Linked DNA regions of Homo sapiens. The protein of the gene in region 2 purifies or fractionates together with the protein of the main gene of each other region. This does not show direct contact. Each region holds a gene or a part of one and is shown on either strand. Other genes may lie near its edges.

The links. The genes of interacting proteins can lie anywhere in the genome.
Region 1: the proteins of MGA (region 2) and USP33 purify together in Homo sapiens (co-immunoprecipitation; one large-scale study listed by IntAct). This does not show direct contact.

The regions. Positions count from the first base shown.
Region 1 is NC_000001.11:77,735,737-77,739,496, reverse strand, and holds part of USP33 (ubiquitin carboxyl-terminal hydrolase 33), read left to right. Parts: intron 1-79; coding exon 80-232; intron 233-3,338; coding exon 3,339-3,441; intron 3,442-3,760. UniProt on the Homo sapiens protein: Deubiquitinating enzyme involved in various processes such as centrosome duplication, cellular migration and beta-2 adrenergic receptor/ADRB2 recycling.
Region 2 is NC_000015.10:41,666,130-41,671,344, reverse strand, and holds part of MGA (MAX gene-associated protein), read right to left. Parts: intron 2,518-5,215; 5' UTR 2,451-2,517; coding exon 1,387-2,450; intron 1-1,386. UniProt on the Homo sapiens protein: Functions as a dual-specificity transcription factor, regulating the expression of both MAX-network and T-box family target genes. Functions as a repressor or an activator.

The DNA.
Region 1 (3,760 bases), on a different chromosome or scaffold from region 2:
TTCTGTTATCTTTTGAAGAAGTCTTTTCAAGTATATGTAATTTTGGTTCCTCTTTTCCCTCTACTGTGAAATTATATAGGAGACAAAGCATTATCTAACTGTGAACCTTACCACTCTTCGAGTATGGTGTTATGCTTGCAGCAAAGAAGTATTTTTGGATAGGAAATTAGGAACTCAGCCTTCATTGCCTCATGTAAGACAACCTCACCAAATACAAGAAAACAGTGTCCAGGTAATAATCTAGATCCACTTAGTTAAGCTGTAAAACATTCCGGTAATAATTTCAGAATTTGTCATGTAGCTGAAATTTTCAAAAGGAATACTGCCTAACCTGTACTTTGAAAATTTCTGTAATGTGCCTTTTTTCTCTCAAATAAAGCACTCAGACTCCCCTTTCTTGTGTTGCTTAGAGTGCTAGATTAGGGTGAGATTGAAGCCCACCTGTTTGAAGATGGAAAAGGCCCTAATGAATTTTTGAAGTTTTTTTTTTTAAATGACTCAAGTAGTCTTTATCTTTTTCTGGTAAGTCTGATTTCAAGAAAGGTGGTGGGCCTTCTTTGATAGCATATGGCAGTTACTAATTCAGCTCTCTTCCCCGTTCTCTCCTCCCCTCCATCCCCTTTGTATTACTGTGAACATTTTACTTATTATTGACAACAAAGTAGAATATAATAAAGCTTAGCATCAGTCTTTGGGTTAAAGATTTTTCTCCCTTTGGGCTGGGTGCGGTGGCTCACGCCTGTAATCCCAGTGCTTTGGGAGGCCAAGGCGGCTGGATCACGAGGTCAGGAGATCGAGACCATCCTGGCTAACATGGTGACACCCCGTCTCTACTAAAAATACAAAACATTAGCCGGGTGTGGTGGCGGGCACCTGTATTCCCAGCTACTTTGGAGGCTGAGGCAGGAGAATGGCGTGAACCTGGGAGGCAGAGCTGGCAGTGAGCCGAGACCTTGCCACTGCACTCCAGCCTAGGTGACAGAGTGAGACTCCATCTAAAAAAAAAAAAGAAAAAAAGATTTTTCTCCTTTTGGATCAAGAGACTTAGAAAACACATGGGTTTGCTTGCAGAATTTATCACTTAATTTTCAGAATTCTTAAAGTCATAGAAAAATAGGAAAAAGGAAATTAACTTAGAATAGTTGGCTTCTTAATCAGATCATCAGTTGATCAGAATTTGATCAGATTTGATTAACAGCAAGTTTTTTTCCTCATGTGTGTTATAGAAATCACATATTTCTGTACTTGTTCATTGATACCAACTGTCAGGTTTTTCTGTTGTATGTTTGTATCACATTCTTATGGTAGATATTTGTGATAATAAATTTGCTTGCCTTACACATGAAAGATGGCTAGATTTTAGTCAAAGAATAATTTCTTGCATTTTCAGTTTCTCAGTTGAATGGCTCTAGTTAATTATAACCATTACTGTTTCTCCCACTTATACCTATTTATCATTCACAAACATGTTTAGTCTTTTTCAAAAGTCCAGATAGTATGAAAATGGCCGTTTCGTTGAATCCTCTTACATTATTAACAAAAGTTTGTCCCACTGAAGATAGCTGAATGGTAATAAGTAGAAAAAGTTTTAAAAAAGAAAAAAGTGTAATGTTATGACTAAAGTTTAATCACACAAGGAACTAATAATATATAAAGGCAAAACTATCAGCATCACTTACTAGAGAAGTAAGTTAAATAAGCTATCTGTTGCCATTTCTGCCAGAAAAGATCAAGATTACAAACTTTAATAAATGTTGAATCTGATAGAATAAGTATACTGATACTTTCCTGATGGCTTGTTAATAATTTTCTGATGACTTGTAAATATGTTAACACATAAAAGGCATAAACTTAATTTCATTCAACTTCCTTATGATCCCATTGTTGAAGAAATTATTCAGAAGAAAACAGTGGTTCAGATAGATTTCTTTAGTGGTCCAAAACTTATATGCTGTTGAAATCCAGTTTACCACAGGATATTTGCAAAATAGTAAAATATTGGAGGCCATGCAAATATTAATAAGATTTTTCAAATAGACATTTTTTCTAGATAGTAAAATTTCAGGTGATTTAAGCCTCTGTACTTCTGTGTATTTAGATATTTTGTAGTGAGCATGTATCTTTTTAAAAGCAATTACTTTATGAAAACAAAATGAAAGTATGAAGTCCACTCAAATGTCCAGTCTCTACAGATGTCAGGAAAGTAAAATCGTTGGGAATTAGTGCATATGCCTGCATTTTAGAGGTAAAGTAAGGCTATAATAACTTGGAGAACCAGAGTACATGCTAAATTCTTTCTGCTATTCAGTTTCCTTCTCTGTTTGGGTGTTGCTGAATGTTGGTTCATTGTAGTTCAATCTTCTGATATTACAAGAGAACTTTCAAATTTTGATTTTTATTTGTCGTCTCCGAATTTTTTAAACTTTAGCTCAAAGTTTTTTTCGTTTTTTTTTTTAAAGTGTTTACTAGCATTTGGCTAACAGGTTATCAGTTGCAACCTCTGAGTCAAGCCAATTGTTGGAAATTAATATTAGAATATTATTATTTAAAGTAAGTGCTTGAACTATTTAATATACGTAAAAGTGTGCAGGCCGGGTGTGGTGTCTCACACCTGTAATCCCAGCATTTTGGGAGGCCGAGGTGGGCGGATCATGAGGTCAAGAGATCAAGACCATTCAGGCCAACATGGTGAAACCCCTTCTCTACTAAAAATACAAAAATTAGCTGGGCGTTGTGGCATGCACCTATAGTCCCAGCTGCTTGGGAGTCTGAGGCAGGAGAAGCGTTTGAACCCAGGAGGTGGAGGTTGCAGTGAGCTGAGATCGTGCCACTGCACTCCAGCCTGGCAACAGAGTGAGACTCTGTTTCGGAAAAAAAAAAGTGTGCAAAGTAAATACAGTAATAAGTATCAGGAGAGATTGTAGAAGTCTATAGATAATGTGTTATGATGAAAAACTTTTGCCTTTTTCCCTGTTGAAAATGAGATCTGAGAAGACAGTGTAGGATAGTATCCTTCGGAGATCTTTTTAGCTATGGTTTACTGTCACATAATTGCAGTTATTGTGGAGTTTTAATTCAGAAAATTCGGTTGTAAAAAGTGCCTTTTTAACTCAAATATATATGTTAATAAAGCGGGACTGACATGCTATTACCCTAGGGTTTTATTTCCTTCAAAATATAAATGTAAGTTTAATTGCTAATACCACAAATTCTTATGGTTCCACTATTAAAATAACATCTCAATAATTTTTATGGTATAGATGTTATATAAGTTACAATTAAAACTTTTTTTAAATTTAAGGATTTGTTCAAGTGTGCTATCTTTTTTTGTTATCAAGGATTTTAAAATACCCAGTAATACAACATTAAAAACTCCTCTGGTTGCCGTATTTGATGATCTGGATATAGAAGCGGATGAAGAAGATGAACTTAGGGCCAGAGGTAAATTAATCCTGTGTAACGCTTCTTTGTATGGCACTGCCCATTTCTTTAGAAAACCATATAATGTAAAAGTTTCAAAATGTGGAGGTAAAATGGGCTTGATAATTAAAACAAAAGGACTCTGAAATTTGGCCTAGTAAAATTTTATTTGCAAAACAAACTTTTGGTTTCTCTGGTGTCAGTTTACCAAAGGTAGGATCCTACTTACTCTTTTGCAGTTGAGCCTTATGATCTTTTTGTTTAACTTGCCTTTTGAGGTCTGTTTGAACAGTGTTTCTCATTTTTCTATTGTCAGTGATGGGGAGGTATTAGGTATAAA
Region 2 (5,215 bases):
CTCAAAAAAAATAAACAAACAAAAATAAGGCAAGTTCAAACAAAAAGAAAAAACAGCATCATTCACAATAGTCAAATTCAAGTTTTGCTTTTTGGAACTTTGTGAAATCCTCCCCCCCATCTCATCCCAAATATTTTGGATTTGTGGTTAGTTGAATACACAGCTGCAGCCTCCACGGAATACTGATTGTATAGACAACTCATGATTACAGGCAACTTTCTGTATCTGAGGAGGACTGGTGCCAGGACCCTCCCCAGATACCAAAATCTGAGGATACTCAAGTCCCTTAGTTGGCCAGCTATAACTGTGGATGCAGAACCAGTAGATGTGGTGGGCCTACTATAATTGAAGAAGGGAAGAAAAATAACGCCAAATCATAATGGAAACAAAACTTATCTATATAAGGCACAAAATGGATTCAGAGTCGTTATTTGTATCTAATATTTGTGAATTTACTGCCTGAGGGATATCCTAATCCATAAATTGCCCAACCAAAGAAGAAGCTTAAAATTATTACTTGTTAAAACAGTATTGCTTACGGCCGGGCACGGTGGCTCACGCCTGTAATCCCAGCACCTTGGGAGGCCGAGGCGGGCAGATCATGAGGTCAGGAGATCGAGACCATCCTGGCTAACACAGTGAAACCCTGTCTCTACCAAAAATATAGAAAAATTAGCCGGGCGTGGTGACGGGCGCCTGTAGTCCCAGCTACTTGGGAGGCTGAGGCAGGAGAATGGCGTGAACCCAGGAGGCGGAGCTTGCAGTGAGCGGAGATCATGCCACTGCACTCCAGCCTGGGCGACAGAGCGAGACTCCATCTCAAAAAAAATAGTATGCTTACTCTTTCTTTAAAATTTACCTGGCATAACTGAAGCTTTGTACCCTTTGACCAACATCTTTCAGTCTCTCTCTACCCCCTGGCATCCACCATTCTACTTTCTACTTTTATGAATATTTTGCAGTATTTGTCTTTTTTTGTTTTGCCTATTTCACTTAGCATAGTATTCTCTAGGCTCATCTATGTTGTCATAATTGGTATGATTTTCTTTTTTTTATTGAGATGGAGTCTCAAATGTAGTCAGGTGTTGGTATTCTTGGGTGGTCCTGGAACCAATCCCCCAAGGATATCAAGGAACATTCTAAATACATATGAATAATTCTGATAAGTTATCCAATTTGCCTACAATTCTAGATCCTGAACCCAACTGATTCTCATTACAGAAAAATGATGTCACTTCACAGAATGTAAAAGCAGTTGTAGTATATTTTATAGTGGCTTACATTTATCAACATCTGTAGCATTCCACAGAACCAAGATGTTAAATCCAACACCTGGCCCATCTCAATCTTCCTTTTATTTCTAAGAACAGAAAAACTACTACTTACCATTCAGAAATCTCTTGCTTCAATTGAGGAACTTCACTAAGTGCTGAATCAGTATCCATGAAACCAAGAAAGTCTCGTTTTATATTAAGGGAAGTCTTCTCCAAACCCTTGCCTGATGTTTCATGACCCCTTGACAAAGGATCCAAATCACCTGGTTGTATCTCTGACCCCTGACCTTCTGTAAGACGGACCCGATGACCAGAAGAACTGGAAATATTATTCCCTTCTTGGTCAGAGCTGTTCTTTTGTTTTCCATCTCTCTGGGGCTTATTATTCAGCCCATCATCCCGAAAGCCTTTGGCAAATGGATTGTAATCTATTTTCAGCTGAGTAATCTGAATGTTCTGATAAGCTGTTACTGCAAAGAATTCAGTCTGTGGGAAGGTAAAAGTGTGGACACCAGGGCCATTTAATTGTATCACCTCCACAGCCTTTTCTGCAGGCACCAAATGAAGCCTCGGCAGGTAACGATGCATAGAGTGCAAGATGATATGCCCTTCTTGGTCCAGTGTATTGTTGGTAAGTTTGAGTTTATAGAAAGATACTGGTTGATGCATCCAATAATGACCTGTGGAAGGAGATTCTGGATGAATGAAAACCCTCCCCAAAACATGAGGTTCAGCCTTCCCACTAGGTTCCCACCAACGACCATTCCACTTATAACGATGGTTATCCACAGGAGATATATCCATGACAAGAATATACTTCAAATTTGAATCTAAACCTGTTATCCAATAACGACAGTAAGGAAACATGCGTCTTCCTTGCTTGGTCAGAATCATCTCTGTGCTTCGATGATAGAACTCATTCCACATACTATTGTTATCGAGGGTAACAGTGATTCCACCCACAGTACAATCAGCTGGAAGGCAAATCTTCCCTTTAGATTTTACTGGTGATGACACACTACTAGCCAAAGCACAGGCATCCTGATTAGTAACCAAAATTCCTTGATCAGTTTTGCCATTTCCTGGCTGCTTTAAGATGACAAAGAAGGTAGGTGCTGCTCCTGCCACTGTTCCACCATCTTGATTAGCCAATATAATCTGCTGTTTCTCCTCCATGATTTCAGTAGGAAACTCAGTAGTAAGACAACTGTAATCACCACATAGTCACAATGGCCTTCCCATCCTAAGAAACAAGCAAAAAAAAACCAAAAACAAAAAACACCCTTTAATCAAGTGAGTATTTATTTCTTGAACAAAAATACAAGAACGATTATGTTATCCCCAAAATATTCCTAAATTCTTCTAAGACTTTGCTTCTAAGCTTTTCTTTCAATCACAGTAAGAATATTTACTCTGGAATATCTAATCATTTTTTAAAGTTCATTTTAATCTAATTAGTTAAGGTGCTTATATCCTAATCCTCTAACAATTCACTATAAATACTATAATCTCACACAAAGAAACAAAAGAGTATATTCATTATTAAAAAAGTATACAAAATTAAAAAGTTAAATTTGAAGGTTATGCATTTTTAAAGCATCCTAACACTTTATGAATTTACCAGAAGATTCCTTTATATAGCAAGTTCCCCAGTGATGAGTAAATTAAATAAGTAAAGTTCCATTTTCATCCCAAAGAGCTAATTGTACAGAATTAGTTCTTCATATGGTTCAGAAGACATGGTTCCATAAATAAGTAAAAAGCTATCTAACTTCTTAGTACACACGTTTAAAGAAGCCATGACAAATCACTGGAACTCAATGGACCTTACACTGAAATAAATTCCAGATGACTCTAATATTTAATTTTTTTATTCCTAAATCCTGAGAAAAGTTTTTTGATAAGACACAAAATCTAAAACCAGTAAGGCCAAAAAAAAAAAAAGTGATAAATTTAATACTATATGATGCCAGGTGTGGTGGCTCACACCTGCAATCCCAGCACTTTGAGAGGCTGAGGCCAGTGGATCATTTAAAGCCAGGAATTCGAGACTAGCCTGGCCAACATGGCGAAACCCCATCTCTATTAAAAATTAAAAAATTAGCCTGGTGTGGTGGTGCACGCCTGTAGTCCCAGCTACTCAGGAGGCTGAGGCATGAGAATCACTTGATCCTAGGAGGCAGAAGGTGCACTGAGCCAAGATCACGCCACTGCACTCCAGCCTGGGTGACAGGGAAAGACTCCGTCTCAAAGAAATAAAAATAAAATAAAATTTAATATTCTGTAAATTTTTTAATCTGGCAAAATCATTTAAGCAAAATCAAAAAGCAAACTAACCAGGAAAAGGTATTTGCAACTTATAAAGAACTCCTTTCCCTAATATAAAAAGGGGGCTGGACATGGTGACTCACACCTATAATCCCAGCACTTTGGGAGGCCAAGGCAGGAGGATTGCTTGAAGTCAGGAGTCCCAGACCAGCCTGTCCAACGTAGTGAAAGTCCGTCTCTATTAAAAAATAATAGCGGCGGGGGAGCAGTGGCTCACGCCTGTAATCCAAGCACTCTGGGAGGCCAAGGAGGTCAGATCACTTGAGGTCAGGAGCTCAAGACCAGCCTGGCCAACATGGTGAAACCCTGTCTCTACTAAAAATAAAAAAATTAGCTAGGCATGGTGGTGTGCGCCCATAATCCCAGGTACTCGGGAGGCTAAGACAAGAGAATTGCTTGAACCCAGGAGGTGGAGTTGCAGCGAGCCAAGATGGCACCACTGCACTTCAGCCTGGGTGACAGAGCGAGACTCTGACTCAAAAAAAAAAATAAAAATACATTAACAGTAATAATAATTTTTAAAGGCTTCCTACAAATCAACAAGACCAAATACCTAACAGAAAAATGAGTAAAGGATAATAAACGCAAATGGCTATGAATATGTACATAGTTAAGAGGAAAGCAAATTAAAGTCATCTTGAGATACTGTTTTTTTACTTATCAGACTGGCAAAAATCAAAGCCTGGTAGTGCTGGAAAGGGTTAGGTCAACCAGCATTCTCCCCTAAGCAGTTACTGGGAGTATAAAATAATAGAATCTCTAAGAGAGGGCAACTTGAAAATATCAAAAGTACAAATCCATATATCATCCTATGACAAAGAATTGTTCCCAGGACTTTAAGTTTTCTTAATTCACTGTTAAAACCCACTATAGGACTTTATTTTAAATACACACACCTGTGATAAATGATATCTATACAAGATTATCCCCTGCATTCCCACTTATAACAGCAAAAGACTAGACAGGAAGAGAGAAGTCCTTAAAATGGTAAAACAAATGATGACACATCCATAGAGTGGAATGTTAACAGTCACAAAAGAGAATGTATAAGCTTAATGAATGCATGCAAAAAGTATCTACAAGATATATTAAGCGTAAAATGTTCAGAAGAGTTGTAAATTATGCCACACATCTTTTAAAAGTTTTTTATTGTACCTCTTAAACTTCAGACAGGGAGAACACGTGCAGGTTTGTTTACATGAGTCTACTGCATAATATAAGGTTTGGGCTTCTAATGATCCCATCATCCAAGCAGTGAACATAGTACCTGATAGGTAGTTTTTCAACCCTTGTAAAAGATTTTTCCTTTTTAAAATCAAAGAAATAGACAGTATTTCGGTCTTTAAAATAAATAAAAAGCCAAAGAATGAAAAAGAACATGTACATATTTGCTTTACACAGACTATCTCTGGAAAGACAGAAAAGAAAACAGTAGTATTGGTCATATCCAAGGAAAACTTGATGACTTGGAAAAGATACCCTTTTACACTTTGTAAATTTTGTGTCTTGTGAACACACAACCTTTAAAAACTAAAACACAGGCCAGGTGGGCAGGTGCAGTGGCTCACACCGGTAATTCCATCACTTTAGGAGGCCCATGTGGGAGTAACGTT